4 separate regions of the Homo sapiens genome follow, and all the other regions are linked to region 2. Evidence: fine-mapped QTL for protein levels in blood plasma. A gene starts in region 2. Each other region holds a variant in brackets. All regions are shown on one strand. Distances are from middle to middle.

Evidence for each region. PIP is the posterior inclusion probability: the model's chance that the variant is causal. Protein levels are from antibody-based Olink assays in UK Biobank. Linkage for the fine-mapping came from a reference panel and not from the study's own genotypes, which makes the PIPs less certain.
Region 1: its variant is fine-mapped to the plasma level of the SPARCL1 protein (UK Biobank, PIP above 0.99).
Region 3: its variant is fine-mapped to the plasma level of the SPARCL1 protein (UK Biobank, PIP above 0.99).
Region 4: its variant is fine-mapped to the plasma level of the SPARCL1 protein (UK Biobank, PIP above 0.99).

What each region holds. Positions count from the first base shown.
Region 1 is chr4:87,416,394-87,424,499 of GRCh38, forward strand. NUDT9 (nudix hydrolase 9) reads left to right here and starts at 6,180. Exons shown (of 8, transcript NM_024047.5): 1 at 6,180-6,619. The coding sequence starts at 6,513. RefSeq lists enhancers at 5,949-5,998, 6,068-7,002, 7,546-8,049, 8,050-8,106. The variant C/G (reference allele first, on the strand shown) is at 4,072.
Region 2 is chr4:87,525,202-87,533,307 of GRCh38, forward strand. SPARCL1 (SPARC like 1) reads right to left here and starts at 4,175. Exons shown (of 11, transcript NM_004684.6): 1 at 3,844-4,175. It overlaps LOC124900729 (a long non-coding RNA gene), which reads left to right. Exons shown (of 2, transcript XR_007058171.1): 2 at 152-1,294.
Region 3 is chr4:87,482,115-87,490,220 of GRCh38, forward strand. It overlaps SPARCL1 (SPARC like 1), which reads right to left. Exons shown (of 11, transcript NM_004684.6): 8 at 310-446. Among named protein-coding and RNA genes, the nearest start is that of SCPPPQ1, 15 kb to the left of the region's middle. The variant T/C (reference allele first, on the strand shown) is at 4,906.
Region 4 is chr4:87,507,471-87,515,576 of GRCh38, forward strand. All of the region lies in intron 1 of SPARCL1 (SPARC like 1), which reads right to left. Among named protein-coding and RNA genes, the nearest start is that of SPARCL1, 18 kb to the right of the region's middle. RefSeq lists an enhancer at 3,415-3,915. The variant T/C (reference allele first, on the strand shown) is at 3,270.

The DNA of each region.
Region 1 (8,106 bases), 110 kb before region 2:
TGATTCTCCTGCCTCAGCCTCCTGAGTAGCTGGGATTGCAGGCAGCCACCACCACGCCCAGCTAATTTTGTATTTTTAGTAGAGAAGGGGTTTCACGTTGGTCAGGCTGGTCTTGAACTCCTGACCTCAGATGATCCACTTGCCTTGGCCTCCCAAAGTGCTGGGATTACAGGAGTGAGCCACTGTGCCCAGCCTCCTTGATTATTATTTTTATTTCTTTCCTACCTCAGATCTTTTTTTCAAGGTACAGTCTTATCTGCCTTGAATGCTCTTTTCCTAGCTTTTTCAATGACTGGCAGCTTCATGTCCTTAGGTCTCTGCACAAAAGTGACCTCATCAGAAAAGACATCCTTCCCCTGCAATCTAAAGTAGTCACTTCTCCCTCAACTATCCTGTCCCTCAGCAGTTATCTATTTCCTTCACAACAATTTTCCTAATCTGGAATTCCTAGTTTATTGGTTTACTTATTAATGTTTATTTCCCTCTCATATAAAGTAAGCTTCATGAGAGTAAGACCTTGTCCATTTTGTTCACAACTGTATTCATGGCACCTGGGGTGGTATGCTTGGTAAATAGTATTATTCGTCATTATGGTATAATGTGAATAAATGCAAACCTGAAAGAGGAAATCCTTTAAGATGGATCCCACGTGGCTAACAAATTTTAAACAGAGCCAAGTGGCCATTTGCCTACTAAAGGTCACCCACATACTCTGAGTTCACTGAAAACTCACACCTCTATTGAACTTTGGGATTTACAGAGCTCACCTGAACCAACCAATAAGCTCAGCTGTGCCAACCAATCAGAATTAAGCTAGCTTGAATCCCTCATTTGTGTAAACAGACCTAGTTAGTAATCTGGGTGGCAATTTTGGTTATAAAATCCAAACCGTCTCTCTGTTCTCTGGAGCACACTTCTGTTTTATACCAAAGGCTGTGTTTCCCTGGTTTGCAAACTGTTCACTGGAATAAAGTCTCTTTCCTCCAAATTCCTTTTCAGAGAATGTTTGTTTACAATGACTAAATAAATGCAGAAAAAAAAAAGAGAATGTGTTAGGCCATTCTTGCATTGCTATAAAGAACTACTTGAGGCCGGGCACGGTAGCTCAAACATGTAATCCCAGCACTTTGGGAGGACAAGGAGGGCAGATCACGAGGTCAAGAGATCAAGATCATCCTGGCCAACATGGTGAAACTCCATCTCTACTAAAAATACAAAAAATTAGCTGGGCATGGTGGCATGGGCCAAGTAGTCCCACCTACTCGGGAGGCTGAGGCAGGAGATTCGCTTGAACCCAGGAAGCAGAAGTTACAGTGAGCTGAGATCGCGCCACTGCACTCCAGCCTGGTGACAGAGTGAGACTCCATCTCAAAAAAAAAAAAAAAAAAAAAAAAAAAAGAATAAAAGAAAGAAATACTTGAGACTGGGTAATTTATAAAAAAAAGTGTTGTGGGAAGTCAGGGACCCTGAACGGAGGGACCGGCTGGAGCTGTGGCAGAGGAATAAATTGTGAGGATTTCATGGATATTTATCAGTTCCCAAATAATACTTTTATAATTTCTTATGCCTGTCTTACTTTAATCTCCTAATCCTGTTATCTTCGTAAGCTGAGGATGTATGTCAACTCAGGACAACTGTGATAATTGTGTTAACTGTACAAATTGATTGTAAAACGTGTGTTTGAACAATATGAAATCAGTGCACCTTGAAAAAGAACAGAATAACAGCGATTTTTTAGGGAACAAGGGAAGACAACCATAAGGTCTGACTGCCTGCGTGGTTGGGCAAAAAGAGCCATATTTTTCTTCTTGCAGACAGCCTATATACAGACGTGCAAGTAGGAGAGATATCACTAAATTCTTTATCACTAATATTCCTAGCAAGGAATATTAATATTAAGACCCTGGGAAAGGAATGCATTCCTGGCGGGAGGTCTATAAATGGCCGTTCTGGGAATGTCTGTCCTATGCGGTTGAGATAAGGACTGAGATACGCCTTGGTCTCTGGCAGTATCCTCAGGCTTACTAGGATTGGGAAACTCCTTCCTGGTGAATTTTTGGTCAGACTGGTTCTCTGCTCTCGAACCCTGTTTTCTGTTAAGATATTTATCAAGGCAATATGTGCACTGCTGAACATAGACCATTAACAGGAGTTCTGATTTTGCCCTTGTCCTGTTTCCTCAGAAGCATGTGATCTTTGTTCTGCCTTTTGCCCTTTGAAGCATGTGATCTTTGTGACATACTCCCTGTTCATACACCCCCTCCCTTTTTGAAATCCTTAATAAAAACTTGCTGGTTTTGCGGCTCAGGTGGGCATCATGGTCCTACCGACATGTGATGTCACCCCCGGCAGCCCAGCTGTAAAATTCCTCTCTTTGTACTCTTTCTCTTTATTTCTCAGCTGTCTGACACTTATGGAAAATAGAAACAATCTACGTTGAAATATTGGGGGTGAGTTCCCCCAATAGAAAAGAGGTTTAATTGGCTCACGGTTCTGCAGGCTGTACAGGAAGCATGGTGCTGGGCATCTGCTTGGCTCCTGGTGAGGCCTGAGAAAGCCTACAATCATGGTGGAAGGCAAAGGGGAGCTGACATTTTGGCGAGAGTGGGAGCAAGAAAGAGGTGGACAAGGTGTCATACATCTTTAAACAACCAGATCTTGCATGAACTCACTATCACAAGGATAGCACTATCACAAGGGATCCACCCTCATGACCCAAACACCTCCCACCAGACCTCACCTCCAACACTGGGGAATACATTTCAACATGAGATTGGAGGGGAGAAATATCCAAACTATATCAGGGAAATAGTTGGGATTCTGAATTACTCTTACTTTTAACATACTCATCAATTCTAATAATCACATATGTCACTTTCCTATTTAAAAATTCTCATTTCTCAGTGTTCTTGGTCTGTCTCACCAACTATTGCAAGATGCCCTTGAAGTTGGTATATGCTTCATAAATTTTTAAAAAGTCCTTACTTCTCCTTAAATTCTGATGACATCTGTTTAACTAATTTAGGATGTGGGTAATTTGATGAGGAGATGTTTTGTTTCTACCCAAGAGCAGGTTGCAGAACATGCACTCACTACACCTGAGCAGATGTGCAGTATGCATCCCTGAAGGGAGGAACCCAGGAGATCTGGCTGTCCCAGCTAATTGCAGTTTTGTTTCAGTGCCATGGAATTGGTTTTGTTTGTACAGTTGTTTGCACAGGTTCATCAAACTAAGTTCACGCTAGCCTCCCCTTAGGGAATATGGAGTTATAAGACTAGGGTCTGAGGAGCTTCCTGTGAGAACTACTTTCTGTTGCTCCCTTTCTTTGATTGTTGACTTTGTAACTCACTGCTTTTCTCCTGTCTTCTCTAGTGACTAATTTGTCAACAGACTTTGGACACGCTGAACTTGATGAACAGAGCCGGTCTAATACATTTCCAGTTTAAGCAGTGATTAACAACACTGAGAGCAAAGTTTATCTGACCAGAGGAAGCCGAGTACTGATATTTATCTTTAAAATGCACATTTCAATAATAGTACTTCTCAACCTGAGAAAGCAGTCAAAATAAACAAAGCTGGACACTAGTTAAAGCAGTAAGGACAGACTTTATTCAGTGATGCTAGTCCAATAGGGAAAAGAGTGTAATACAAACTAATCCCACACTTCCCTGAAACAAAAGGCTGTGGTATGCAAAAAGGAAAGGCACAAAAGGATCTTAAGTTTTGGGGGGTGGCAGGGGGGCACGGTGGTTTGTTGATTGATGTGATTAGGCCATTTGGGTTTGTTAACTGGCTCTTATCCAGAGGAGAAACAAACTTCTATCTTTATGATAGGAGGCAGTGGTGCTAGCTAAAGCAAGGTACCGGTCTTGTACAGGGACTAGGAGCTAGGGTGAGTTATCTTTCTGAATATTTGCATTTCAAAGAGATGGCTCCCAAGTCTTTGAGGAAACTGTGTTGGGTGGTAGACTTACATCACCAAGGGTAGAGAAACAAGCTTTCTAAAGTGACTGCTCTAAGAAGGGGTTCAGGGACCTATCTGCCTATCATCAAGTTTTGGCTGGAACAAA[C/G]AGTAAATTCTCCAGGCATTGAGTTTTGATTTCAGGGAAGCATTTTAACGGGATCTGGGGTCAGCCTAGGGACAAGGCCTTAAGCTACTGGAAGCTATGCTAGAGTATAATCAAATCTCTCAGTGCCGAGAAAAGAACTTTTATATGAGGAAGGTAAATCCTTTTAAATTACCAGGCCCAGAGAGACATTAAAATGAGACAGCAATTACATCCTACTCCCCACTTTGTTATGCATTCATCTCTTTAAACTGCTTACTATAGCCACAAGTAGCTAAAAATTAACCTAATAATGGTACACTGGACACTGTAACTCGCACCCTATAGCTTAACGTATAGCCAACCACTAACCAATACTATTTCTACAAACCAGTAATTCTTTACAACTTTGTATCAGTCAACTCCCTGTCCCCTTTTTGCCTTTAAAAACCTGATTGTAACAAAGGTGGACAGGAGTTCACATTTAAGGTTACTTGGGTCTGGGTCTTCTGGGCAGCTGTCCTCACTTTGGCTAAAGTAAATGCTTTAAGTTCTATCTCGTGCCTCAGCGTCTAGGTTGACAGTGTAGTTTGAACAGTCAATACCTGTCGAGAGTTCTGCAGTTTTCAGAACAATGGTTGTTAAAATTCGATTAATCTGGCTTTTAAGATGGTCAAAGTTTTGTAACGTCGGTGTATTGGAACCACACCACAGAAACAGCGGATCATGTAAGTAAAAGTCAAATAGTTGCCACATCAATAAGCTAATATAAATGAAGTAAGCCTGATTACAAGCTGCTTTGGACAGTCTGGGTTTCCAACTTTGTTTGTCGGTTTGTTTAATTTTTGCCTCTCAAGTTTATTATCCAGTATTATGTGTGTTGCCCTCTGTTCCTCCTCCAGCATGTGTGCCTATTTTCACAGCTTTTCTCCTCCACGAGTTTCCAAGGGCCACAACTGGTCCTAGCAAAGCCTTGTGAATGAAATCCAGCAATTGGAGCAGACAACTTGGTTAAGAAAACAAAAACAAAAAACCAAGAAACCCTTCAAGATACGAGGGCTGAGTCTCTGGACTATCTCCTCTTGCTGTAACCGCCCAAGGGGTTCACCTTTCCCGCTTCCTAGACAGAGCTGATTCATCAAGACAGGGGAATTGCAATAGAGAAAGAGTAATTCATGCAGAGCCAGCTGTGTGAGACCGGAGTTCTATTATTACTCAAATCAGTCTCCCTGAGCATTCAGGGAGCAGAGGTTTTTTCTTTTTTTTTTTGATACGTAGTTTCACTCTTGTCGCCCAGGGTGGAGTGCAGTGGTGCGACGTTGGCTCACTGCAACCTCCACCTCCCGGGTTCAAGCGATTCTCCTGCTTCATCCTCCTGAGCAGCTGGGACTACAGGCGCGTTTACCACCATGCCCAGCTAATTTTTGTATTTTTAGTAGAGACGAGGTTTCACCACGTTGGCCAGGCTGGTCTTGAACTCCTGACTGCAAGTGATCCCGCCTCGGCCTCCCAAATCAGTCATAATTTTGCAAAGGCGGTTTCATTCCCATAACGAAGTATTATTCAAAAATATGGCTAAGACCTGCGTCCTTCCGCAACAACTTACTCCCTAAAAAAACCAGAGCAGGGCCAGGCGCGTTGGCTGAGGCCTGTAACCTCAGCACTGTGGGAGGCCCAAACAGTTGGATTATTTGAGCTTGAGAGTTGGAGACCAGCCTGGGCAACATGGCAAAAATCTGTCGCTACAAAACATACAAAAATTAGCCAGGTATGGCGGTGTGTGCCTGTAGTCCCAGCTACGTCGGGGGCTGAGACAAGAGACTCGCTTAAGCCCAGGAGGTTGAGGCGGCAATGAGCTGAAATCGCGCCCCTGCACTGCAGCCTGGGCGACAGAGCCAGACTCTTGTCTCAAAAAACAAAAACCAAAAACCCAGGGCAGCAAGTCTCTCTCAAACCCCTTGGCTTCTTTCCCACTTATTCCCGTTCCAGTTCCTCGTCTGTTTCACCTTTCCTTTCCTCTGACACTTTCTTGGTAGTTCCCTGCGTCCCCAAGTAAGCCTGCGCAGACTGGGAAGTCTGGGAAGTCGGAGAAGGAAGGCGCTACCAAGCCGGCAACGCACGACCTTTGCTTTGCGGCGCGGCCGTAAAGCGCCATTACGCAGAGAGAAAGTTACGAGGTTCGTGGCCGCGGTTTCCCCAGGCAGCTGGCGCTGGAGGCTTCGGCGTCACGTGCTGGTCTGGATTTTTCTCGATGCACTGGGGAAAGCGGTGGACTCTTATCGTGGGAGGGCTCTTGATCTGTGATTTATAGATAGGCACAGCTACTCCCGTTCGGGAACCCAACGGCAGACAGGTCCTAGTGCCCATCAGATACCCGCGGCCGGGACTCGGAGCTGTGGGGTGTGGGGAGGCGGAGGCACCAACTAAGAGCGACCTAGCATCGCAAAGCCGCCCTCGGGGCGCTCATGGCGGGACGCCTCCTGGGAAAGGCTTTAGCCGCGGTGTCTCTCTCTCTGGCCTTGGCCTCTGTGACTATCAGGTCCTCGCGCTGCCGCGGCATCCAGGCGTTCAGGTATTCCACCCTCCTACTACCGGCTCCTTTGCCCTAGACCTTGAGTTGGGGGTGGGAAGCAGCTTTTTTTTCTGGCGTATTCTGTAGGCTTTGCTTTGCCTCTCGGGTTTTTATAGTCATATACAAGTTTTCAAAAAGGCTCTAAAATATTTTATCTGCCTTTTGAGGAAAACGAGTGGCAGGGACCCTTCTTGACTTCTGATTTTGAAATTTGCCATTCTCTGTAAATCATTGTTAGTATCACGAGAGAGTTTAAATAGCAATTGTTTGGGGTGGTGGTGTCCCGTGCCATTTTTTTATGGTTAATACTTAAAACATTATTATTAGTATTAATACATGTACATAGTTAAAACAACTTGAAAATGTAAAATGAAAAGTAAAATCACTATTCCCCCTGTCCCCTTTCCAGGGTGGACAATATATTATATTTACTATCTACCTCCTTTTTTTTAATAATTTGTCTATTGTGGTTAAATTTAGGGATTTATGGTGTCTTACACTGCCTCCTTCTGTTCTTCCCTTCTCCAGTTTTTATTCTTTGAGTTAGTAAACACAGGGTCCTAGGTGCAGCAGCCTTTTCTTATTTTATAGATATTAAAAGTCTTGAATCTACAAAGATGATAATTAGAAAAATCTATTTCCTAAATAATTTACTTACTGTTGGTCAATTGTTCTGTGTCTTTTTGGTCCTGTTTCCTTCTGTTGCTTTTTCTCGAACATGTGATGGGCACTGGTTATCTGTCTATATTTTGATTAATATGAGTAATAGGTCTTGTTTTCAGTACATGGGTCGCTAATTGACTTTTGGCTCTGTACCAGGTTGCCTAGATAGGAAGGTTTCAGTTGAGGGCATGTGAGCAGGTACCAGATGGGTAGACTGGGAACCTGCCTTTTGCTTCAGGCTTTGCAGTAGTGGTGGAGCAACTTCTCTGCTGAGTATAGCTGTTTATTTCCTCCGTGTGAACTGTAAAATTATTAAGCCTAAGTTTCTGCTGTGTACTCTTAACACCAGTATTCACAGTAGGGGTCCTACCCCTTCATTTCTAAAAAACTTTTGATTTTATCTTGGAGACAAACATAACTATTTTGGACTTTTTGCTTGGAGATTGGGGAGGGAGGAGGACTGAGTGATTTCCATGGTTATTGTCGCGCTGCCAGTTTATGATCCTTGGGCCCACTGACTTCAAGCTTGAAACCTCTAGCTCGGCTCAGCTTGTAGGAATAGCATTTCTCCCTAATGCGTTTTTTTTTTTTTTTTTTTTTTTGAGAAGGAGTTTCGCTCTGTCGCCCAGGCTGGAGCGCAGTGGCGCGATCTCGGCTCACTGCAACTTCCGCCTCCTGGGTTCAAGCGATTCTTCTGCCTCAGCCTCTTGAGTAGCTGAGATTACTGGCGCGCGCACGCCCGGCTAATTTTTTTTGTATTTTTAGTAGAGACAGGGTTTCACCATCTTGGTTAGGCTGATCTGGTCTTGAACTCTTGACCTCGT
Region 2 (8,106 bases):
TATCCACATTTCACAAGTGGGGGAAACTGAGGCTCCTGAGCTTAGCAGCCAACCTTTACCATGGGTTAGATACTGTAATAAATGCCTTACATGCTCAATCTCATTCAATTCCCATGACAATTTTATGACTGTTATTATATCTATTTCACAGATGAGAAGACAGAGGCACAGAATGGATTAGATTAAAACAACTAGAAGGTATGAGTGCCAGGATTCAAGTCCAGGCAGTCTGCCCCAGAATTCCCCTCTATAACCACTACACCATAGCACATCGTGAAGATGGGAGGAAGCAGTGGGAACTTGAAAAATGGATTTATTGCAGGGTTTGCTGCAGTATGTGTATCATGTGAGGCCATTTCTATTTCTCTTTCTTTGCCTTCCCAGTTGTTTTTCCCCTGTATGCCACAGTAAACTAGCCACTGTTTTAGCAGCTCTCTTGTTGATTTTTAAAATACCTATTCACTAAATCTTTAAAGGAAACATTTAGCTACTGCAATGGGTGTACATAAGTTGGTTGTGTAATAGGAAGGAAACAAGCCAGGACTGGAGACTTCATTTCTAAAGAAGGATTTTAAAGCAGACTAAGAGTTATTTCCCAGAGCAGGTCATGAAGCAGGAGTCTCTCTACACCCTTTCATTGCTATGACGACAGCCTGCTCCTGCTACATGCAGCCAGAAAAAGCAGCTTACATTTCAATGCTAGGAACATAGGGGAGAGGTTTACAAAAACACCAAACAAAGACAAAAAAACAAAAAAAAGACTCTTTCACTTGAATTTCAGTTAGAGAGGAAAAAATATCCCCTGGAGCAAGTCAAAAGCCCTATTCTTGCCTTTAGAAGAGATAAGAAAGAAGAAATGTTGGGGGCTTTCCCTCTTGTCCAAGTGGGCCAATAAAACAGAATTGACAGCAAAGCAGCATTTCTTCTCACTCTGTGTAATGGCAAGCTGGCATAGAACACTTTCTTTGGTTTCCTTTGACTTGGCCATTAAGAAGCTACTAACTGATGCAGCAGTGAAGTCTCATAGTAATAAATACCTCGTGTTGAGGCCCCCCACCAGGGGAAAATAGTAGTGTCCGATTTACTTTTACATTTCTTTGGATAAAAAAGGCAATTCAAAGAATATTTCCTTCTTGATCTCCATTGTTACTACCAGAGAAATCATTGCAAGTATGTAACAGAGGCCTCACTGATATACGAGATTCCTTATGAGCAACCAGTCAACTTTCCTATGTGTTTACTTCTCTGCCAGGTGCTATACTTGGCATTTAATAAACATCACATTTCATTCCTACAACGACCTCATTTGTGTGTATTATTATCCCCATTTTGCTAAACAGATGAGTAAACTGAGTCATGCAGGTGGGAAGTAACTGCCAAAGCTTACACTGATTGTAAGAAGCAGAGTCAGGATTCTAGCCCAGATGCATTGGACTCTGAAGCCCATGCTCTGTCCACTCTGCTGTGCTGCCTCAGAGGCATACACCTGGCATTCATATTTTATTATAGAGCAAAACGTATAAGTACAAGGAAGAAACCCTGAGAAAATATCTAGAGTCAGTTCCCGTTCTACGGAGTTTCAATAGGGACATATAGTTAGTCCAGTACTTTCATATTATCTACGATTGATTGATTGCTTTAATGTACCAAACATGGCTCTTTTCTTCACTTAATTCTTACAACAAATCTCTGAGGTAGCTACTGATTTTATAATCCCATTTCCATGAATGAAGAGACTGAGGCACAAAGAGATGAAGTTGTTTGCCCAAAGTCACAGAGCTATTTTGTGGTAAAGCTTGGATATAAACCACGGTCTTATATAAACAGGGTCCATATGGTCAGATATAAACCACAGGTCATGGCCTTATTCACTTTATTAGATTGCCTCCCCACCTTTGGAACAATCATCAAGACCATGCACTCTGTTTTTCAAAGTTCTATCCATCTTTTGATGACTAAGACAAAAGCCAGGCTAGCCCTAGGTAATGCTATCATCGCTAACTCAGCCTTTGGCAGAAGATGCCCTGTGAGCCCCGTAAGAAACAGACCCTGGCCTGGTTGGACATCTCTCAGGAAGCCAGGCCTACTGGGAAGTTCTACTGGATTTATTTATGGGGGTCTCCTTCTCCACTGAAGATCATTCTAGAGGGATAAGTGAGGACTATGTGCACTTCAGATCTTCTAACAAGTTGTTTATGCCCTTCTCGGTAGAAAAATGTTCCCAACCAGTTCTGGATATGGTGCTAAACTTAAGTAAAATAGCAGTGTTTAAGTCAACTGAGTAAAAAGAACAGTCAAGAGGAAATGAAATAAATAATGTTTTCAAGTTGTCCAGATGCATCACTATTCATTTTATTTCTGTCATCACTATTATTTTTACTTAGTTGATATGTGAATCTGTGCCATGAGGAGCTACTGGGGATTAAATCTCAAAAGACCTAGGAAGGAAATGCCAGCACTCTAATTGCTCAATGGCTGTGTGAAAAATTCTCTGAAAGAAAAAGGCAAGGTTCATAAATAACATGTGAATATTCTTCTCCAAAATGTGGAAAGTGGCACTAGTTGATTGGACGATAAGTAGATGAAATAAACTGCTCTGCTTTGCTAGATCTTATTAAATGAACAGAAATATTAACTTAAATCTTTCCAAAGAGGGTGTTTTGAATAAAAAAAAAATCATAGTTAACAATAGTCACAACCATCAGGTTTGACTGAGTAAGCTGTGAACTGAAAAAAGCTGGTGTCTACGAGAAAGGGGAGAATAAAAAAAAAAAAGATTTCTGCTGACTTGGACTGAGTGAACATTTCTATTCAATGTGCTTAGGCCCTGGGCCAGAGGAGAGCTCAGATACAATGCCAAGGTGACATATTTAACCTCTTTGCAGATTAAAGGCAGTGCAAAAGAGATACTCTTTCTGCAGTACCTCTTGGTGTACTGTTTCAACAGTATTGATCTGCAGTTAAAAGCATGTTTTTTTTTCTTTTCTTTTCCTTTCTTTTCTTTTTTTCTCTTGCAGAGTGACCTTTAATACCTGGGAAGGATGAATAAGCACAACCTACATTATTGCTTTATTTTAGAAAAGAGAGCCAGAAATGGTAGTACATTATAATATGAGTTACCATAATCTCTTTAGCTCTTTAATTCTCTTCTCCCATTTTTGCTTTTGTAAATAAGACATTATCAAGAATTAGAGAAATTTTAGGTCTATGTGTGAGCATCTTAACAAATGATAGTAGGAGGCAAAAAATAATTAGTTATAAAGCTGTAAAAGGGAACCAAGAAAGGGAAAATAATCGCAATAACTTAAAAATAATCAAACAAGAATATAGTATAAAAGGAGAAATTTTCCTACCTTTTGGAAAAGCAAAAAGTTCCGTTTCTACATTGCTGTTAGGCTCAGGAGATTGAATAACTTTAGATAATTTAAACATGGAAAACATACAAATTATTTGATTTGAAATTTTTTTTAAAAACTACCTTCTTTATAGTTTATTTCATATATGTAATAAAGTACTTCTACAAAACACATTTCAGGATTCAGGCTTCACTAAGATCTGAATGCTACTGAGGCGATCAACAGTTCCACATTTCTATTCTTGGTCTTCACTAAAATCACCATCATTTATTAGTACTTGCTATTTAATTTCGCAGGAAACAAGAAAACATGAATACAAATGGTAAAATTCTCTATGAAGTATCTTTTCTGTAAATCACACAAAACTTTTTTTGGTAAATAAATGGCTTTGTATTATTTAGGCAAAAATATTTGACAGCTTTATCAGATCACGCAAATCAGCTTAACAAATGCAATTAGATAATGCCGTAAATTTATTACAACTTACCTTTAAGTAAGGGGCTGGACCCAGAGCCACTGCAGAAAAATTGAAGTTGAATCCCCTCTGCACACAGACAGGGAATAAAAGTTTGACAAACACCCAAGAAAAACTCTTTAAATCCCTTTCCTCGTTAGCTCTGCTTCTTTGCCCAGAGGCATATTCAAGTCTACTGGAGTTGAAATTCTGCTGCTCTGTCAACTAGTGGGGGTCTGAAGTGACAGACGAGAATTTGGAGGTTGGCACCAGAGAGTATTTCAGACTGTCATCGTTTTTGTTGCAGATTCCTGGATTTCCCTAGCAGGCTGGCCTCTCATGCGAGGGCTTTACAGGCAGTGCTTGCAAACCAAAAGGGAAAGAGCTAATTCTGGTGGCGTGGATGGGGTTAACAGTCTTCCCCTCAAGCTCTTGTTCTCAGAGCCTCATAACTTGGCCAGAATATAAGCACTTGGCTCTTTATGCATTTTTTTTCTTTTTCAAACAACTCTGAAAGGTTTTATAAGCAGCATCCCTTTTTTGGAGATTTTTATTTTAAGACCTTGAAAAGAAACTCCATGCTGTTGTTTCTTTCTAAAGGAAATTGGGGAGTAGGGATTAAAGGAGGGAAGAAGAGAAATGGCAGCAGATGCATTTTTACGTTGCTCAATTGGAAATTGTTCTAGCAAATACAGTCTGAATTTTAATAGAAGGGTACTTCAGATACCTTAACCTTCTTTGAATGAGATTTGGAAATGGACATATATAAAAATGATTGCTCCTTATATTATAGATCACTTGTATGCTGATTCAGAAATGTTGCAGTTCTCCCCTCAACACAGCTCTCCACTGTAACTCCATGGTTATAATGGTTGGTATCTAAGAAGGAGGTTTCCCATAAAAAGAATGGAGGTGTGCACTTATTTTTGGCCCGGGATTCTGGTTGTTTGTATGTGTCTAATCTCTTCTACTGCTACTTCTACATTTATCACACATTTATTATGTGTCAGACACTGTGCTAACAGCTTTTTATGCGTTATTATCAGTTGATCCTCACTACGCATGGTAAGTTTTACTGTGTTCCCATTTGAGGGGTAGTGTCATACAGTGGTTGGATTGGCAGAATTTGAGGCCAGCCAGCTTGGATTTGCATCCTATCTTCACCACTTCCTAACTATGACCCGGGACAAGTTATATAACCTCTCTAAAGCATCAGTGCTTTTATCTATAAGACAGGGATATACATATGGAAATGATGATAATATCTATCTCTGCAATTGTTCTGAGTTTTAAGTTAGTTAACATGATAAACTGCATAGAACACCCCTGCCACGTAGCAGACACTCAATAAATGTTAGCTATTATCATTTACATAAGAGGAAACCAAAGCTTAGTAAGGGTGTTTTTTCTAGGGTATCCAACTGTAACTTACAGGATGGGATTCCAAATCAGCTACCATGGCTGACAGCCACACTTGTGTAACTTATCTATAATCCCTCTATTATGTGATATAGACACATATATATATCATACCTGCTTCTGAGAAAGCTGTAAACTCCTTGAAGGAAGGGGATGTGCCCTTTCTGCATTCTCCTGGTGCCTAGCACAGTGCTTTGCATCCTGTAAATGTTCCATTATCATCAGATGAATAATTATAATTTAATTTAATTTAATTTAGATTTTCTAAATGCATGCCAACGTCTGGCCAAAAGCAAAAACACTGACAAAAACAAAATAAAACCAAAATAAACCAAAAACCCCCACCTACATTTCTAGGCAAATATGCCCTCAGCCAAATCTCTCAAAACACTTTAGAATTATTTGCCCTATTTATTTTCAGAACACTGCAAGAAAAAGGTAACAAGGATTATCTCTACTTTGCAGTTGGAGAAATTTGGGAGCAGAGGAAACTGGGCACTTTGCCTAGGAGCCAAAAACAAGTCACGGTGCAGCTGGGAACACTCACGTCTCTAGAATCAGGATAACTTGTTCCAAACCGCCTTTCCCAGGACAGCATGAAAGGACTTGATGTCTTTTTGCCTCAGACAATAGGATGTTTTTCCTTAGCCAAGGTCTAGGGGTTGAGCAATCTCCTCGGAGGAAGGATAAAGGGGTGGGCAGTGTTTGACCATGCTTCTCCCTGGTGTGCACATCCTCTGTGCACATCTGCTCTGAGAAGTGTGGAAGACACAGACCATTTTTCCAAGTCTCCCAAGGGGCTTGGGAGCAGTGAGACTATTGCAGAATAAGTAAGAAAAGCATTTCTGAGGATTTGGCCTTAGTTGGCTAAAGAAAATTTTCTTGGGGACCCAAAATATTAACTTCTTATTCTAACTAGCATTCCCCATTTATTTAAGATGGCTTTGTAAGATTGATTTCAGGTGATTACATCAATTCAACGAGAATGTAGAAAAAAATTTCATTTAAAGGGCTCTGGAAAAAAAGTTACCCGACTAAAATTTTTTTCTGCTAAAATTGATATTTTATGCTTCTGTAAAATGATCAAAATAAATTTTCTTATGTAACTGTGTTAACCTAAAAAGTAATTACTTAAAGCAAACTGGATTCATCTCTTAAATGTAAATAGGTACCTAGAGAGTTCATTTGTAGGTGGCAAAGCTTGAGAATTTTGACTTTCAGTTTTATTGGAGGTCTTATTAATTTATAACATGATTAATAAAGACCCACTGTATTTCTTACAACAAAACAAGAGAGAAAAATGAATAAAAAAAGGCCTTTGAATTCGCGGTGTCTTTTCAGTATAGCTTTATTTGGAAATGTTTGTTGGCAGATATTCAAACTCTCATTGTTTCTGAAGCTGTTTTTTCTAAAATAGTTTACAGTTCAGAAAGCTGAGGACAATAAACCTGCAACAATACTCACCTAACAGATGGAGCTACAGATCAGATTTAGAAAACGTATGAGACGTCCAAATGGGTTGGGAAAAGTTTGACAAAAAGCTCATTATGTTACTGTACATGAAGAGACGTAACATCACTGTTGGTCAGAGGATGTGACAGATGTCAACATCTAAATGGATTTTCTTTTTTCTTTTTTTTTACCTTTTAGTGTTAGGATTCCCTTTGAGAATCTGATGAAAGCTGTGGGCAAGCTCCTAAAACCCATCTATGAAACTCCCCCCCAGTATCCTCTCAGGGATTCTATGAAGTTAAAAACCCCTAATTCAGGGGAAGGAGCAGAGAACACGTTAATTAATCCTCAAGCATATACAGAACTTCTTTGTTACATATAGCAGAAGCCTCTGGGTGATATCAAAGATGTACTTCCTGCCTATTAGGAGTCCAAGAGCCAAGGCATATGCTCATTGTCAGAGGTCACATGATTCTTTTGGAATAGTGGAGATCCCCAGGAAGGAGGTAAGTATGGGTGAGTGAAAAAGCTGCAGTAAAAACAGAGTGTCTGTATTGATCTTGGCCAGGACCTGGCCTGTAGGACCCTCTTCCTTGATTACCCAATGTATTAGTTTCCTAGGGCTGGCGTAACAAAATACCACAAATTGGGTGGCTTAAACAGCAGAAATTAATTTTCTCACAGTTCTGGAGGCTGGAAGTCCAAGATCAAGGTGCCAGCAGGGTTGGTTTCTCCTGAGGCCTCTCTCCTTGGCTTGTGGATGGTCACTTTCTCACTGTGTCCTCACACAGTCCTTCCCCTGGGCATGTGTGCTTCTGGTGTCTCTGCCTCTTTTTATAAGGACGCCAGTGCTGTTGGATTAGATCCTCACGTTTACGTCTTCATTTAACCTTAATTTACCTCTTTAAAGGCTCTGTCTCTAAATATAGTGACAATGGGGGTTAGAACTTCAATTTATGAATTTTGGGGGAAATAATTCAGCCCATAACACCCCATTACACTTAAAATATTTTTCCCATTATGTTTTTAATACCTTGATATTTAGTTCTCTGTGGGTCTTGCTTCTGGGACCCATCTTGAGGTCTCAATTCCAGGTGAGTTACTGATCTCTGCCTGTGGAATTTCCTTACCCCCACAGTACCATCATAACTTGACACTGAACAATTTCAGATCTCTCAGTTCTGTGTTGATTATTAACCCTCTGGGTCATTTTCTGACTATGGACTCTTGCAGGAGTTTATTCTAGCTATCCTTTCCCAGGCCAGCCCTTCTATGGGTTTAGTCATACCCTCTATTTGGTCTTAGGCATAGGCTTGATACACAGAGAGCAATTAACGAGTAAGACAGTAGCAAAATGTGCACAATATTTTGTTAAATATAATGTGGACATTATTATGTTACACATTACACATTATGTTTATACAT
Region 3 (8,106 bases), 43 kb before region 2:
TTTGGACTGACTAGATCAATGCTAAATTTATATTAACTTTGCTCAACCAGAGCTTGCTCTAGGTAGGAATTGAAGAGCCCTAATTCAGGCCACTGACCATTGGGAAGAATGGGGCGGTTTGGTGGTGTCTGAAACCTTGTGGCGTGAATGGTGACATCTATTATTCTGTTAAGCCACATGGGCTAACCGGGCATGGGGAAGCATAGTGGGCTTTTGCCAGTATGCAGAGGTAGGTAGCCCCCCCACCACGTCTTTCTTCCTCATGCCCTGTAGACAGACATTGAAGAAGCTAACCTGTGGATAACTTACTTTATTTCTCTGCTTCTCATTTAGATAACCAGCGTGTTCAGAGTTGGCTTCATAAAGCTGCATGAGGATATTCTTGAGCCAGTCTCTCATCCGTAGAGGAAACTGAATCACTTCAAAGTCCGTACAAGTAGGAATAGCTGTTACAAGCAGAAAATGTACTGTAATCTTTGGGCTTATTTGTGTCCTATGGCAAGTCCTCATAATAGGAAGCTTAACGACTTCTGGCAACTGACAGAGCTTTCTCAGGTCCCCATTATTATGACAGTGGTCCTCAGCCCTGGCAGCAGCACAACAAAATTGCCTGGGGTTTTAAAAAACATACCAAATGCCAGCTTCCAATCAAGTAAATTCTGATGTGATTGGTCTGGCGTGAAGTCTGGGCATCAGGATGTTTTTAAAGCTCCAAGATCTATTTGGATGTGCAGCTAGGCCCCAGAATCACTGCTGTAGAATCAGAGTTGAAATTTGTAGGTGGAGGGCACAAGTGCTATTGAATAGAGAAAAAGGTAGCTATTAGCTGATACTACAGTAAGAAATAATGCTAAATCTCAGTGGCTTAAAGAAACAGAAGTCAATTTTGCAATCCTGCTACAAGTCCAATACAAGTTGGCAGGAGGGCTCTGCTCATTGCAGTCTCCCCAGAGCTCAGGATCACTGCCGTTTTTTTTTTTTTTTAATTATACTTTAAGTTCTGAGATACATGTGCAGAATGTGCAGGTTTGTTACATAGGTATACACATGCCATAGTGGTTTGCTGCACCCATCAACCCATCATCTACATTAGGTATTTCTCCTAATGCTATCCCTCTCCTAGTCCCCCAGCCCCTGACAGGCCCTGGTATATGATGTTCCCCTCCCTGTGTCCATGTGTTTTCACTGTTCAACTCCCACTTATGAGTGAGAACATGCAGTGTTTGGTTTTCTGTTCCTGTGTTAGTTTGCTGAGAATGATGGTTTCCAGCTTCATCCATGTCTCTGCAAAGGACATGAACTTATCCTTTTTTATGGCTGCATAGTATTCCATGGTGTATATGTGTCATATTTTCTTTATCCAGTCTATCACTGATGGGCATTTTGGTTGGTTCCAAGTCTTTACTATTGTGAACAGTGCTGTAATAAACATATGTGTGAATGCATCTTTATAGTAGAATGATTTGTAACCCTTTGGGTATATACCCAGTAATGGGATTGCTGTATCAAATGGTATTTGTAGTTCTAGATCCTTGAGGAATTGCCACACTGTCTTCCACAATGATTGAACTAATTTACTCCCACCAACAATATGAAAGCGTTCCTATTTCTTCACATCCTCTCCAGTATCTGTTGTTTCCTGACTTTTTAATGATCGCCATTCTAACTGGTGAGAGATGGTATCTCATTGTGGTTTTGATTTGCATTTCTCTAATGACGAGTGATTATGAGCTTTTTTTCATATGTTTTTTGGCTGCATAAATGTCTTCTTTTTGAGAAGTGTCTGTTCATATCCTTCACCCACTTTTTGATGGGGTTGTTTTTTTCTTGTAAATTTGTATCTGTTCCTTGTAGATTCTGGGTATAAGCCCTTAGTTAGATTGACAGATTGCAAAAATTTTCTCCCATTCTGTAGGTTGCCTGTTTACTCTGATGATAGTTTCTTTTGCTGTGCAGAAGCTCTTTAGTTTAATTAGATCCCATTAATCAATTTTGGCTTTTGTTGCCATTGCTTTTGGTGTTTTAGTCATGAAGCCTTTGCCCATGCCTATGTCCTGAATGGTATTGCCTAAGTTTTCTTCTAGGGTTTTTATGGTTTTAGGTCTTATGTTTAAGTCTTTAATCCATCTTGAGTTAATTTTTGTATGAAGTGTAAGGAAGGGATCCAGTTTCAGTTTTCTGCATATGGCTAGCCAGTTTTCCCAGCACCATTTATTAAATAAGGAATCCTTTCCCCATTGCTTATTTTTGTCAGGTTTGTCAAATATCAGATGGCTGTATATGTGTGGCATTATTTCTGAGCCATCTGCTCTGTTCCATTGGTCTATATATCTGTTTTGATACCAGTACAATGCTGTTTTAGTTACTGTAGCCTTGTAGTATAGTTTGAAGTTAGTTAGCGTGATGCCTCCAGCTTTGTTGTTTTTGCTTAGGATTGTCTTGGATATATGGGCTCTTTTTTGGTTCCCAACTTTAAAGTAGTTTTTTTCTAATTCTGTGAAGAAAGTCAGTGGTAGCTTGATGGGGATAGGATTGAATCTATAAATTACTTTGGGCAGTACAACCATTTTCACGATATTGATTCTTCCTATCCATGAGCATTTGTTTGTGTCCTCTCTTATTTCCTTCAGCAATGGTTTGTAGTTCTCCTTGAAGAGGTCCTTCACATCCATTGTAAGTTGTATTCCTAGGTATTTTATTCTCTTTGTAGCAATTGCAAATGGGCATTCACTTATGATTTGGCTCTCTGCTTGTCTGTTATTGGTATATAGGAATGCTTGTGATTTTCGTACATTGATTTTGTATCCTGAGACTTTGCTGAAGTTGCTTATCAGCTTAAGGAGATTTTGGACTGAGATGATGGGGTTTTCTAAATATGCAATCATGTCATCTGCAAACAGGGACAATTTGACTTCCTGTCTTCCTATTTGAATACGCTTTATTTCTTTCTCTTGCCTGACTGCCCTGGCCAGAACTTCCAATACTATGTTGAATAGGAGTGGTGAGAGAGGGCATCCTTGTCTTGTGCTGGTTTTCAAAGGGAATGTTTCCAGCTTCTGCCCATTCAGTATGATATTTGCTATGGGTTTGTCATAAATAGCTGTTATTATTTTGAGATATGTTCCATCAATACCTAGTTTATTGAGAGTTTTTAGCATGAAGGGATACTGAATTTTGTTGAAGACCTTTTCTGCATCTATTGAGATAATCATGTGGTTTTTGTCATTAGTTCTGTTTATGTGATGGCTTACACGCATTGATTTGCGTATGTTGAACCATCCTTGCATCCCAGGGATGAAGGTGACTTGATTGTGGTAGATAAGCTTTTTGATGTGCTCCTGGATTTGGTTTGCCAGTATTTTATTGAGGATTTTCGCATCCATGTTCATCAGTGATATTGGCCTGAATTTTTTTTTTTTTTTGTATATCCTTCAGGTTTTGGTATCAGGATGATGCTGGCCTCATAAAATGAGCTAGGGAGGAGTCCCTCTTTTTCTATTGTTTGGAATACTTTCTGAAGGAATAGTACCAGCTCCTCTTTGTACCTCTGGTAGAATTCAGCTGTGAATCTGTCTGGTCCCCAGCTTTTTTTGGTTGGTAGGCTATTAATTACTGCCTCAATTTCAGAACTTGTTATTGGTCTATTCAGGGATTCAACTTCTTCCTGATTTAGTCTTGGGAGGGTATATGTGTCCAGGAATTTATCTATTTCTTCTAGATTTTCTAGTTTATTTGTATAGAGGTGTTTATAGTATTCTCTGATGGTAGTTTGTATTTCTGTGGGATCAGTGGTGATATCCCCTTTATCATTTTTTATTGTATCTATTTGATTCTTCTCTCTTTCCTTCTCTATTAGTCTGGCTAGCTGTCTATCTATTTTGTTAATCTTTTAAAAAAACCAGCTCCTAGGTTCATTGATTTTTTGAAGGGTTTTTCGTGTCTCTATCTCCTTCAGTTATGCTCTGATCTTAGTTATTTCTTGTCTTCTGCTAGCTTTTGAATGTGTTTGCTCTTGCTTCTCTAGTTCTTTTAATTGTGGTGCTAGGGTGTCAATTTTAGATCTTTCCTGCTTTCTCTTATGGGCATTTGGTGGTATATATTTCCCTCTAAACAGTGTTTTAGCTGTGTCCCAGAGATTCTGGCCCATTTTGTCTTCATTCTCATTGGTTTCAAAGAACTTCCTTATTTCTGCCTTAATTTCGTTATTTACCCAGTAGTCATTCAGGAGCAGGTTGTTCAGTTTCCATGTATTTGTGCAGTTTTGAGTGAGTTTCTTAATCCTGAGTTCTAATTTGATTGCAGTGTGGTCTGAGAGACTGTTATGATTTCCATTCTTTCACATCTGCTGAGGAGTTTTTACTTTCAATTATTTGGTGAATTTTAGAATAAGTACAATGTGGTGCTGAGAAGAATGTATATTCTGTCAATTTGGGGTGGAGAGTTCTGTAGATGTCTATTAGGTCTGCTTGGTCCAGAGCTGAGTTCAAGTCCTGAATATACTTGTTAATTTCTGTCTTGTTGATCTGTCTAATTTTGACAGTGGGGTTTTAAAGTCTCCCACTATTATTGTGTGGGAGTCTAAGTCTCTTTGTAGGTCTCTAAGAACTTGCTTTATATATCTGGGTGCTCCTATATTGGGTGCATATATGTTTAGGATAGTTAGCTCTTCTTGTTGCATTTATCTCTTTACCATTATGTGATGCCCTTCTTTGTGTTTTTTGATCTTTGTTGGTTTAAAGCCTGTTTTATCTGAGGCTAGTATTGCAATTCCTGCTTTTTTTTTTTTTTTTTTTTTTTTTTTTTTTTTTTTTTTTTGCTTTCCAATTCTTGGTAAATAGTCCTCCATCCCTTTATTTTGAGCCTATGTATGTTTTTGCATGTGAGCTGGGTCTCCTGAATACAGTA[T/C]GCTGATGGGTCTTGACTTTTTATCCAATTTGCCAGTCTGTGTCTTTTAATTGGGGCATTTAGCCCGTTTACATTTAAAATTAATATTGTTATGTGTGAATTTGATCCTGTCATTATGATGCTAGCTGGTTATTTTGCCTATTAGTTGATGCAGTTTCTTCATAGTGTCGATGGTCTTTACAATTTGGTATGTTTTTGCAGTGACTGGTACTGGTTTTTCCTTTCCACATTTAGTGCTTCCTTCAGAAGCTCTTGTAAAGCAGGCCTGGTGGTGAAAAAATCTCTCAGCATTTGCTTATCTGTAAAATATTTTATTTCTCCTTCACTTATGAAGCTTAGTTTGACTGGTTATGAAATTCTAGTTTGAAAATTCTTTTCTTTAAGCATGTTGAATATTGGCCCCCACTCTTTTCTTGCTTGTAGGGTTTCTGCAGAGAGTCCCACTGTTAGTCTGATGGGCTTCCCTTTGTGGGTATTCCGACCTTTCTGTCTGGCTGCCCTTAACATTTTTTCCTTCATTTCAACCTTGGTGAATCTGACAATTATGTGTCTTGGAGTTGCTCTTCGTGAGGATTATCTTTGTGGTGTTCTCCGTATTTGCTGAATTTCAGTGTTGGTCTGTCTTGCTAGGTTGAGGAAGTTCTCCTGGATAATATCCTGAAGAGTGTTTTCCAACTTGGTTCCATTCTCCTCATTACTTCCAGGTACACCAATCAGATGTAGGTTTGGTCTTTTCACAGAGTCTCACATTTCTTGGAGGCTTTGTTTATTCCTTTTCATTCTTTTTTCTCTAATCTTGTCTTCATGCTTTATTTCATTAAGTTGATCTTCAATCTCTGATATCCTTTCTTCCACTTAATCGATTTGGATATTGATACTTGTGTATGCTTCACGAAGTTCTCGTGCTGTGTTTTTCAGCTCCATCAGGTCATTTATGTTCTTCTCTAAACTGGTTATTCTGGTTAGCAATTCCTCTAACCTTTTTTCAAGGTTCTTAGCTTCCTTGTATTGGGTTATAACATGTTCCTTTAACTCAGAAGAGTTTGTTATTACCCATGTTCTGAAGCCTACTTCTGTCACTTCCTCAAACTCATTCTCCATCCACTTTTGTTCCCTTGCTGGCAAGGAGTTGTGATCCTTTGGAGGAGAAGAGGCATTCCCATTTTTGGAATTTTCAGGCTTTTTGTGTTGGTTTTTCCTCATCTTCATGGATTTTCTGCCTTTGGTCTTTGATGTTAGTGGCCTTTGGATGGGGTTTTTGTGTGGATATCTTTTTTGTTGATGTTGATGCTATTCCTTTCTGTTCATTAGTTTTCCTTCTAAGAGGCCCCTCTGCTGCAGGTCTGCTGGAGTTCACTCAAGGTCCATTCTAGACCTTGTTTGCCTGGGTGTCACCAGCAGAGGCTTCAGAACAGCAAACATTGCTGCCTGTTCCTTCCTCTGGAAGCTTCGTCCCAGAGGGGTACCTGCTAGATGCCAGCCAGAGCTCTCCTGTATGAGATGTCTGTCGACCCCTGCTGGGAGGTTTCTCCCAGTCAGGAGGCATGGGGGTCAGGGACCCACTTGAGGAGGCAGTCTGTTCCTTAGCAGAGCTTGAGTGCTGTGCTGGGAGATCTGCTGCTCTCTTCAGAGCTGGCAGGCAGGAACATTTAAGTCTGCTCTGCCCACAGCCGCCCCTTCCCCCAGGTGCTCTGTCCCAAGGAGATGGGAGCTTTATCTATAAACCCCTGACTGGGGCTGCTGCCTTACTTTCAGAGATGCCTTTCCCAGAGAGGAAGAATCTAGAGAGGCAGTCTAGCTACAGTGGCTTTCTGGTGCTGCCGTGGGCTCCACCCAGTCCGAACTTCCTAGCAGCTTTGTTTACACTGTGAAGGGAAAACCGCCAACTCAAGCCTCAGTAATGGTGGATGCCCCTCCCCCCCACCAAACTCAAGCATCCCAGGTCAACTTCAGACTGCTGTGCTGGCAGCAAGAATTTCAAGCCAGTGGATCTTAGCTTGCTGGGCTCTGTGGGGGTGGGATCCACTGAGCTAGACCATTTGGCTCACTGGCTTCAGCCACATTTCCAGGGAAGTGAACAGTTCTGTCTTGCTGGCATTCCAGGTGCCACTGGGATATGGAAAAAAACTCCTGTAGCTAGCTCGGTGTCTGCCCAAATGGTGGCCCAGTTTTGTGCTTGAAACCCAGGGTCCTGGTGGTGTAGGCACCCGAAGGAATCTCCTGGTCTGTGGATTGCGAAGACTGTGGGAAAAGCGTAGTATCTGGGCCAGAATGCACTGTCTTTCGCAGCACAGTCCCTCACAGCTTCCCTTCGCTAGGGGAGAGAGTTTCCCGATCCCTTGCAGTTACTGGGTGAGGCAACACCCCACCCTACTTTGGCTCCCCCTCTGTGAGCTGCACCCACTGTCTAACCAGTCCCAATGAGCTGGGTACCTCAGCTGGAAATGCAGAAATCACCCTCTTTCTGCGTTGATCTCACTGGGAGCTGCAAACCAGAGTGGTCCTTATTTGGCCATCTTGCCAGCCACCAATGACGTTGCCATTTTTTGAGGCCACTATCTCAAAGAGAGTTTGTGGTGGCAAAGGAGCAGAGGATGGAGAACCATACCCCAGCTCTTGAATGCTTCTGCCCAGAACTCACATAGATGACTTTTTTCACATTTCCCTGGACAAAGCAAGATATATGGTCATACCTAACGTCCAGGAGGCTGACATGTTTCATCCTCTCCTGTGTCTGGAAGGGGAGGAGACCCGGAAACATTAGTGAGCACTGCTAATGTGGAGAATCACTTAGTGGTAAGGGGAGCCAAACACAATTGAGAATATCCTGGGGAAGGAAGACAGCCTTAAAACACTTCTGGAAAAATGTGTTGTCAGAGACTTCTTGGCAAAGGCTTAACTTAAATTGGGAAGAGGGCAAATAATGTAGCAAAATTCCAGTGATTCAACTCTGTGATTAAGTGGATAGCATTATCATAGTGGTTCTGAGCCCTGGCTGCACATTAGAATTGTCTAGGTTACTTCAAAAACAAATAAAAAAAACAATGTCAGGATTCCAACCTAGTTCAGTTAAATCAGAATCTCCTACGGTTAAGGCCTGAGAGTTCTTATTTTTTAAGTTTCTCCAGTTGATAATTTTTGTGTTCAGAACTACATCAGCTTTTCCCTGTTTGCATATAGATAATTCAGGCATGTCCAGAT
Region 4 (8,106 bases), 18 kb before region 2:
TTCATTGAGTACTTACTAGACACTGCCTAAGCACAAGGACACATAGTTTCTCTCTTAAGAGTTTCTGGGTGTGGAAAATCTCTAACTGCTTTTCCTGTGGTCTCACACCACGCTACAATCAACACAGAAGACTTCTGTGACCAAATGTGGGAGATTTTTTGTCATCAACATGCAAGCAATCAACTCTGCAGCAGGCACCAGCTGAGTGTCCTCCAAATGAATTCTGACACTGTGTACCTGGAGATAGCGTCAGATCCCATAGGTTGAGGGCTCAGTCTCACAAGACATCTTCCCTTTCCCAGATACCAGTCACAAGATCAGGCCTCCAGAACTTCTGGCTGACTGGTTTCAAGTTGGGCTTCCATGACTCCCTCTTGGGGTTCGATTAATTTGCTAGAGTGCATCACAGAACTCAGGGAAACACCTACTTAGATTTACTGGTTTATAATAAAGGATATTACAAAAAGATACAAGTGAAGAGATGCAAAGGGTGAGGTATGGGGGAAGGGGCACAGAGCTGCCAAGCCCTCCCCGGAACACACCCTCTAGGAACCTCCATAGGTTCAGTTATCTTGTAATTTCTTCAAACCTCGTCCCCTTGGGCCTTTTATGGAGACTTCATGAAAGGATAGGCACCATTGACAACCACATAGAAATGTGTTTAGACAAAAAGGGTATGCTTTAGTACTCAAAGGCTGAGTGGGGAAACCCGGTAAGGCCCATCTGTTCAGATTCTTTTTGGCCTCTTTTTTTTTTCCTTTGAGGTGGGTCTCACTCTGACTGTGAGGCTGGAGTGCAGTGGCGTGATTTTGACCTCCTGGGCCCAAGCATGCTCCCACCTCAACCTCCCAAGTAGTTGAGGTTACAGGTGATTGCCACCACACTTGGGTAATTAATTTTTTTTTTTTCTGTAGAGACAGGATCTTCCTATGTTGCCCAGGATGGTCTTGAACTCCTGGGCTCAAACGATTGTCCCATCTTGGCCTCCAAAAGTGCTGAGATTACAGACATGGATCACTGTGCTGGGCCTCTTCTTGGCCTCTCCATGCAACATTCCTTCCTCCAGAATATGGGGCAGAACCCCTTCTGAAATGGGGGTCTTATGACCTACAATCACACAAGGTAGGTAAAGGCAGAGGAAGATTAGAGTCCTGCCTTGGGGAGAAAAAGTAGCAGGTAAAAAAATAGAAGATTAGAGAGAGAGAAATCCTGTTATTCTGAGGTCCGCTTATGAGGCCTAAAATGCACCAACATTATAACATTATAAAAAGGTCTATGGGAATTATGAGACAGGAACCGTGGATGAAACATATGTGTGTGTGTGTGTGTGTGTGTGTGTGTGTGTATAGATACATATATGTATGTAATGTAGATACGTATATAGATAAATATATACATATATAGATACATGTATATAAGTATATATATATATATATAGTATACATATGTGTATATACTATGTATGTGCACCTGGAGATAGTGTCAGATCCCACAGGTTGAGGGCTAAATGTATACTATATGTGTACATATATAATCTATATACTTATATACATGTATCTATATATGTATTATATACACGTATCTATATATGTATATACTAATAATGTATCTATAAATATATAATATATTTATATAAAATCATATAGTGTAATGTGATGATTATGTACATAATGCAATGGAAAGAGAGATAGGAGGCATTTTTAAATTAGGTAGTTGATAATAGCTAACTTTACTACATCCAAAGTACTTAAGTTCTAGGCACTATTCTAAGAGCTTTGCACACACATATTCTTTAAACCTTCTGAACAGTTCTATCAGGTAAGCACATTATTGTAATCATTTCACTAGTAAGGAAACTCGGGCATAAAGATTAAGTAACTTGTTCAGGGTTACACAGCTAGGAAGTGGCACAGCAGATATTTAACACTTCTGTTTGATATCAGGTCTGTCTGTGTTCTTAACTACAGTGTTCTTAACTACTGTATAGAGATGACCTCCAGAGAAGGTAATTCTTGATCTGAGGTTTGAAAACTAATAAACAGTAGTTAGCTGTATGAAGGATGTTCTCACACAGCTAGATGTACTCTAGAGGGTGGCAGGCAGCAGCATGGGTGAAGTTGCAGAAGCATCGAGTCTCTAGGATGTTAATATTTGGGTCTCTAGGCTGTCAATAGGGGAAGTGGGCTGGGGTAGATAAGGCTCAAAAGTAAGCAGATAGCCATATTGTAAAAGTCATAGTGCATTAAACAAGGAATTAAAAATTCCAGCCATAGAGCTATAGGGACCCAAAGAATTATTGTAAGTGTCTGTGTGTGCACGCATGTGTGTATGTCTGTGTGTGTGCACACATGTGTGGACAGGGGTGATGATATAACCAGATTTGTATGTGTGACAGCTGTGTGGAGGACAGACCAGTAGCATGACCTGTGAGAGACAATTGTAACATCAAGGTGAGGTGGTCAGAGCCTTACATTTGGGCTGTGGTCTTAGGAGTGGAGAAAAGAGGGATAGATCCAACCTGTACTGGTTTGTGAGAGCTGTTTGTTACATTTCAAGACTTTTTTGAGTTGGTTGTTAAAGTCATCAATTAAAAATTAAATTACATACATGTATAATTTAATTATGTTAAAAGCAAAGAAAATAGTAGAAACTCATCACTTCATAATTATTTTACTATTATCTACTCTTTTGAGGTTATTTACATCTATTATATCTGTTGGTGGAAATACTATATAATATGTGTTCCGCATGTCTCTTCCCGATTCTGTTCAGTGGCGTCATGTTGGTAGCTTAAAATTGATAGCAACAGGAGGCAGAGAAACTGTAGGCATACAGGGGCGGGTCGCTGGCAAAATCCCACCTTCAAGCCGAAAAGCCTGAAACCCACAGCCCAAAGTGAGAACTTCCATTCTCTCCCGATTGGTTATTTCTGAATACTGTCTTTTTACCAATTGAATATTGCCTTTTCCAAAACTACCTACGGCCTGCCCCGTCCCCATCCTGTGCCCATAAAGACCCCAGAACTCAGCCAGCAGAGGGAAGAAGCAGCCTGATGTCGAGAAGAAGCGCCTGGACATAGGAGAGAGGTGGCTTGACTTCAGAGGAGAGGGATCTTCCCTTCCCATTCCCTTTCCAGCTCACCTCTCCACTGAGAGCCGCTTTCGTCACTGAAAAAAAAAATTCTCCACATTCGCCATCCTTCAATTCATCTGTGTGACCTCATTCCTCTTGGGCACTGGACAAGAACTCGGACACACTACGTGCAGGTA[T/C]CCAAAAAGGCGGTCGCACTGGCCCTTTGCCCTTGCTGGCGGAAGGCAGTTGCCCTACGTGATGAGGCAAAGGGCTCACTGAGCTGATAACACACTGCTGTCTGCGGACGGTGGAGCTAAGAGTATGGTTACACGCCCTCTGGGGCTTGGCGTGGCTGGTGCCCACACCTGGACGCTGGTGAGGGGCCCACATGGAGTTTGCTCCTGCTGGTGCCAAAGTGGCCAGTTCCTGCCTTCGCTCGCTCAGGTTCCTGCAGTCATTCGCTTGCGCACTCCCTCCTGCAAGGGATTGAGCAGGGCGGGCTGAGTAAACAAGGCACCCCTGCCGCGAGTTCCGTGAAGGGGTCAAGAAAATATCCTGCATCAAAATCAGTTGTGGTGGGAGGATCAGTCACACCATGAAAACCATCAAGTGTCACCCACCTCTCCCTCTCTCAGAGAATGGGTTGCTCATTTACCAAAACACAACTGGATAGTTCTAAGAAATAATTAAAAAAAGAACAGATAAAACTTAATGACGAATTAGATATTGTAGGAATATGAGAAGGAAAAGTCTTGAGTCACATTTCTCATATGAACAACTTAGTAAATGGTGGTATTAATTACCAAGGTGAAGGATTATAGGAGGAAGGTTTGGTTTTAGAAGACAGACGGTGGATTAGTTTTGGGCTTGTTGAATTTGAGTAGAGATATCTAGTAGATACTTGGGTAGATAGGTCTGGAGGTAAGCATGGAGTTTGGGGTTACAGATGTAGCTTGCATGCTGTAGCATGAGCAGTTATTCAACCAGTTGAGCAGAGAGCTGGAGCCAGAACCCTGGGGAGTGAAGATCATTAGGCACCATCAGAGGATGGGAAGAGCTAAAGATACAAACAGTGAGAGAAAGAAGAGTCACATGAGAAAAGGGAAGTGTTAAATGTCACAGAGAGTTCAAAGCAAACAAGGTCAGGAAATTATCCATTGCCTCTGGAAGTGCAGAGGTTATTGAGGATCTCAGGGAGAGCAGTTTTGTTGCTGTGGTGTCGGTGGATGCCAGCCTGCAGTGATTGGAGAATGAACAGGCAGTGATGAAGTGAGGGCAGTGAGTGTAGACCACTCTAAAAATGATTGGCTGTGCAAAGGAGAGTAACGTGGTAGCTTAAAGGGAATATGCAGTTACAGGAAATTTATATTTGTATTTGAATGTGATCATTCAGATTCCTTTCCTTTCCTTTCCTCTTTCTTTCTCTTTTTTTTTTTTTTTGAGACAGAGTCTCACTCTGTTTTCCAGGCTGGAGTGCAGTGGCGTGATCTAGGCTCACTGCAACCTCCACCTCCAGGGTTCAAGCAATTCTCGTGCCTCAGCCTCCTGAGTAGCTGGGATTATAGGCATGCGCCACCAAACCCAGCTAATTTTTTTGTATTTTTAGTAGAGATGGGGGTTTCACCATGTTGGTCAGGCTGGTCTCAAACTCCTGACCTCAGGTGATCCACCTGCCTCAGCCCCCTGGAAGTACTGGGATTACAGGCATGAGCCACCATGCCCGGCCCCAGATTTCCCTTCTGTGCTGAAGGGAAAAGACAGGTAAATAAGGAAAAATTGAAGATAAAGGGTAAGAGAGGAGATAATGGTAAACAATGATGACCCCCAGTAAACCACAACTTCTGGGCTTCATTTCCCTATGATGTGGGCCTTAACCTTGTGATTTGCTTTGACCAATGTGACATTAGCAAGCATGATGCCAGCAGAAACTTGGTAAACCTTTGCACATTGGAGTTTTTCCTCTTGGTGGAAGCTATCAGCCATGCTGTACAAAAGCTTGACCCAGACTATTGAATGATGAGAGACCATGTGGCTGGAACCTTGCAGGATAACAGACCCTCCTGGATGATTCAGCCCCAGATGTGTTCCTAGCTCACTGAAGCCAGATGAATTAACTCCAGACAAAATCAGCAGAAGAATCATGCAGTGGAGCCCAATCCAGATTGGAGAATTATGAGCAAATACAGGGATGTGATTTTAAGCCATTTAATGTGAGAGCATACTGTTTTACAGCAACCGAAAACCAAAATAAGGCAAAACAGACCAGTTGCCAAAACCATTAGCAAGACAATATTTCATAACAATTAAAGGCATAAGTTCTGAAACAGGATGTCATAGGCTGTAATACTTAATTTGCGTAAATAAGCAAATTGTGTAGCTTTTGGGGGCTTCAGCTCATTGTCTATAAAATAGTATGAAGATTAAGTGAGACAATACCATCTTGGTAAATCCTGGATACATATTTACTGGTCTACTATTAAAGCACATGTGAAAGGTTTAACTCCAAAGAGAAGGAGGAACTCTTTATTCTTTAACACAAAAGGGAGGAAAGTTTAACTGTAAGGATGTCTTGAGGCAGGGTTCCAAGGAATATTAACTTATTAAGATGGATTTAGTTATACATTCCTTGTATTTATTTAGCATTTCACAGTTTATAAAGTGTTTTCTTATATACTGTCTCATTTGATTCAATGAAGAAAGGAGGGACAGAATTTTTAAATGTAAAGAAACAGAAATTTGAAGAGTCTAAATTATTTGGCCAAATGTACAAGGCTTAAGAGGTGGGCAAGAATTAGAAACGCTGAGCTTTGGACTCAGTATCCAATATTCTCCCCAAACAGACTAGTGAACAGGCTACAGACTAGAAGCCAGAAGTTCTGGCTTTGGGCCCTGGCTTTGCCAAGTACTAAATACTACCTTGAACAAATTACTTTCTCTCTCCAAACTTCATATATAGGATGGGAATACCAGTTCCTTCCGATGTCAAAGGTAGCTCCTTGCAAGGTGAGGTGAGGAAGCTCTTTGCAAACTCTGAAGTACCTTACACATGCAAATGATTATTATTTTCATTGTTCTGCCTGCTGCCTGTCATCAGTAATATCATTAGAGTCATTTATATCTTGTATTAACTACATATGTCTTGTATTAAGTGTGATATAAGGGAAAAGAACCTTAGTGTTTCTCCTCCCCTTTTCCGTATCTTCCTCCCCTAGGGGATTTCAAGCTTCCCAGGAGCTAGTTCCAGAACATATTTACTTTTAGTTCACTCATTAAACACAAACTCACCTATCCTATATTCTATACTTTTAAATCTTTGTTTTTTGCATGCATCTAAACCATACCGAGGAAATAGGAATATTCCTGAATTAGGGCTGGGCATTGTGGCTCATGCCTGTAATCCCACCACTTTGGGAGGCTGAGGCAGGCAGATCACTTGAGGTCAGGAGTTCGAGACCAGCCTGTCCAACATGGTGAAACCCCGTCTCTACTGAAAACACAAAAACTAGCTGGGCGTGGTGGCATGAGCCTGTAATCCCAGCTACTTGGGAGGCTGAGGCAGGAGAATTTCTTGAACCCAGGAGGTGGAGGTTGCAGTGAGCCAAGATTGAGCCACTGCACTCCAGCAATAGAGTGAGACTCCATCTCAAAAAAAAGAAAAAAGATTATTCCTGAATTAATGTATTTCTATTCTCAGGTAAGAGGTATGTTCACATTGTTCTTAACCCAAAAAGAGCTATCGAATGCTGAGAATCCTGGCGTAGCTGTATGGAAGATATTTTAAGGCATAGAACAAGTCTAGGGATTGTCATATAACCTCAGATGGCCACTTGTGCAGGCTTTTTGAGAGCCAACATTTACTGAATGGTCCCTGATTTTTACTGAGTCCAAAGATGGAACTATTTTTTAAGAGTTTTTTTCCATCCTGTAATTGAAAACAAAATTTAAACGCAGAGTATGGTCATGTCATTTAGAATGATCCAAGCAGGAAACCCCTTCAAGTTTCAATTATAAAGAAGATGCCTGTGTTTTATTTTTGAAGGACCTTGTGGGACAATCCAGTATCTAGACTTTAAAACGCCTTGTGTTCTTCCATTGTGTTCCACGTTGTCCTTTAGACTAGTCACTGGGCATTTTTGTCTCACTGAGCTAATTGTATTTGCCACATATTGATCAAAAATAATTTCATGGCCTTTAGCTTCTTATTTTAAGAACTGAGCAAATGTGCTGATTGTATAAATAAGACAGAATGGAGAACTTTCCTGGGAAATGAGAGATATTTTGAAAACAACTGTCATACTGAAGACTCAGGGAGGCTTAATTAGCTGATGCTTGCAAAGTACTTTGAAAAATCAAAACCATGATGTCCTTGCTAAGTATGATGAATACCATTTATTCTTGGATGAGTAAAAAGTCATTTATTTTGAGACATTCGAGTTTGGTGTGCACTGACTACAAAATACAGATTATTTTTGCAGAAATAGAAAATAAAACTCCAGATGAAAAATGCAAAAATGAGACAAATTTTGGAATTCACAGAATTATTATTCTCAAAGACTTAAATATGCAGTATTGATGTGAAACTAAATCAATATTATTTTGCTCAAATGCGTGAGCTTATTCAAAGGCAGCTGCATAGTTTAAAGGACAGTTGGTACGGAACTGGAAGATCTAAGTTCCAGACTTGAACTGCCTTTTACCAGCTAAGAGACTTTGATCAAGTCACTGGTTTCTTCATCTACAAAACAGGAAAGGTAATATTACATTTTCTTATCTATCTTCTGGAGTTGTTTTGAGATTCAAATGTGATCCTATAGTTATTTGGTAATTTCACCAACTGTAAAAATGAAATGAAAGATGTTATCATATCTTTGAAACATGCATAAGGCAGAAAATGGCTTAATAACCCCAATAATGAATAATTCAGACACTTTAATTCATCCCTTTACTAGAGTCCTTAGGTTATTTCTTTCTTTTCTTCATCCCACTGTTTCTTTTTATGGATTTAGAGAGGTTAAAGATGAGGGATGATAGGTA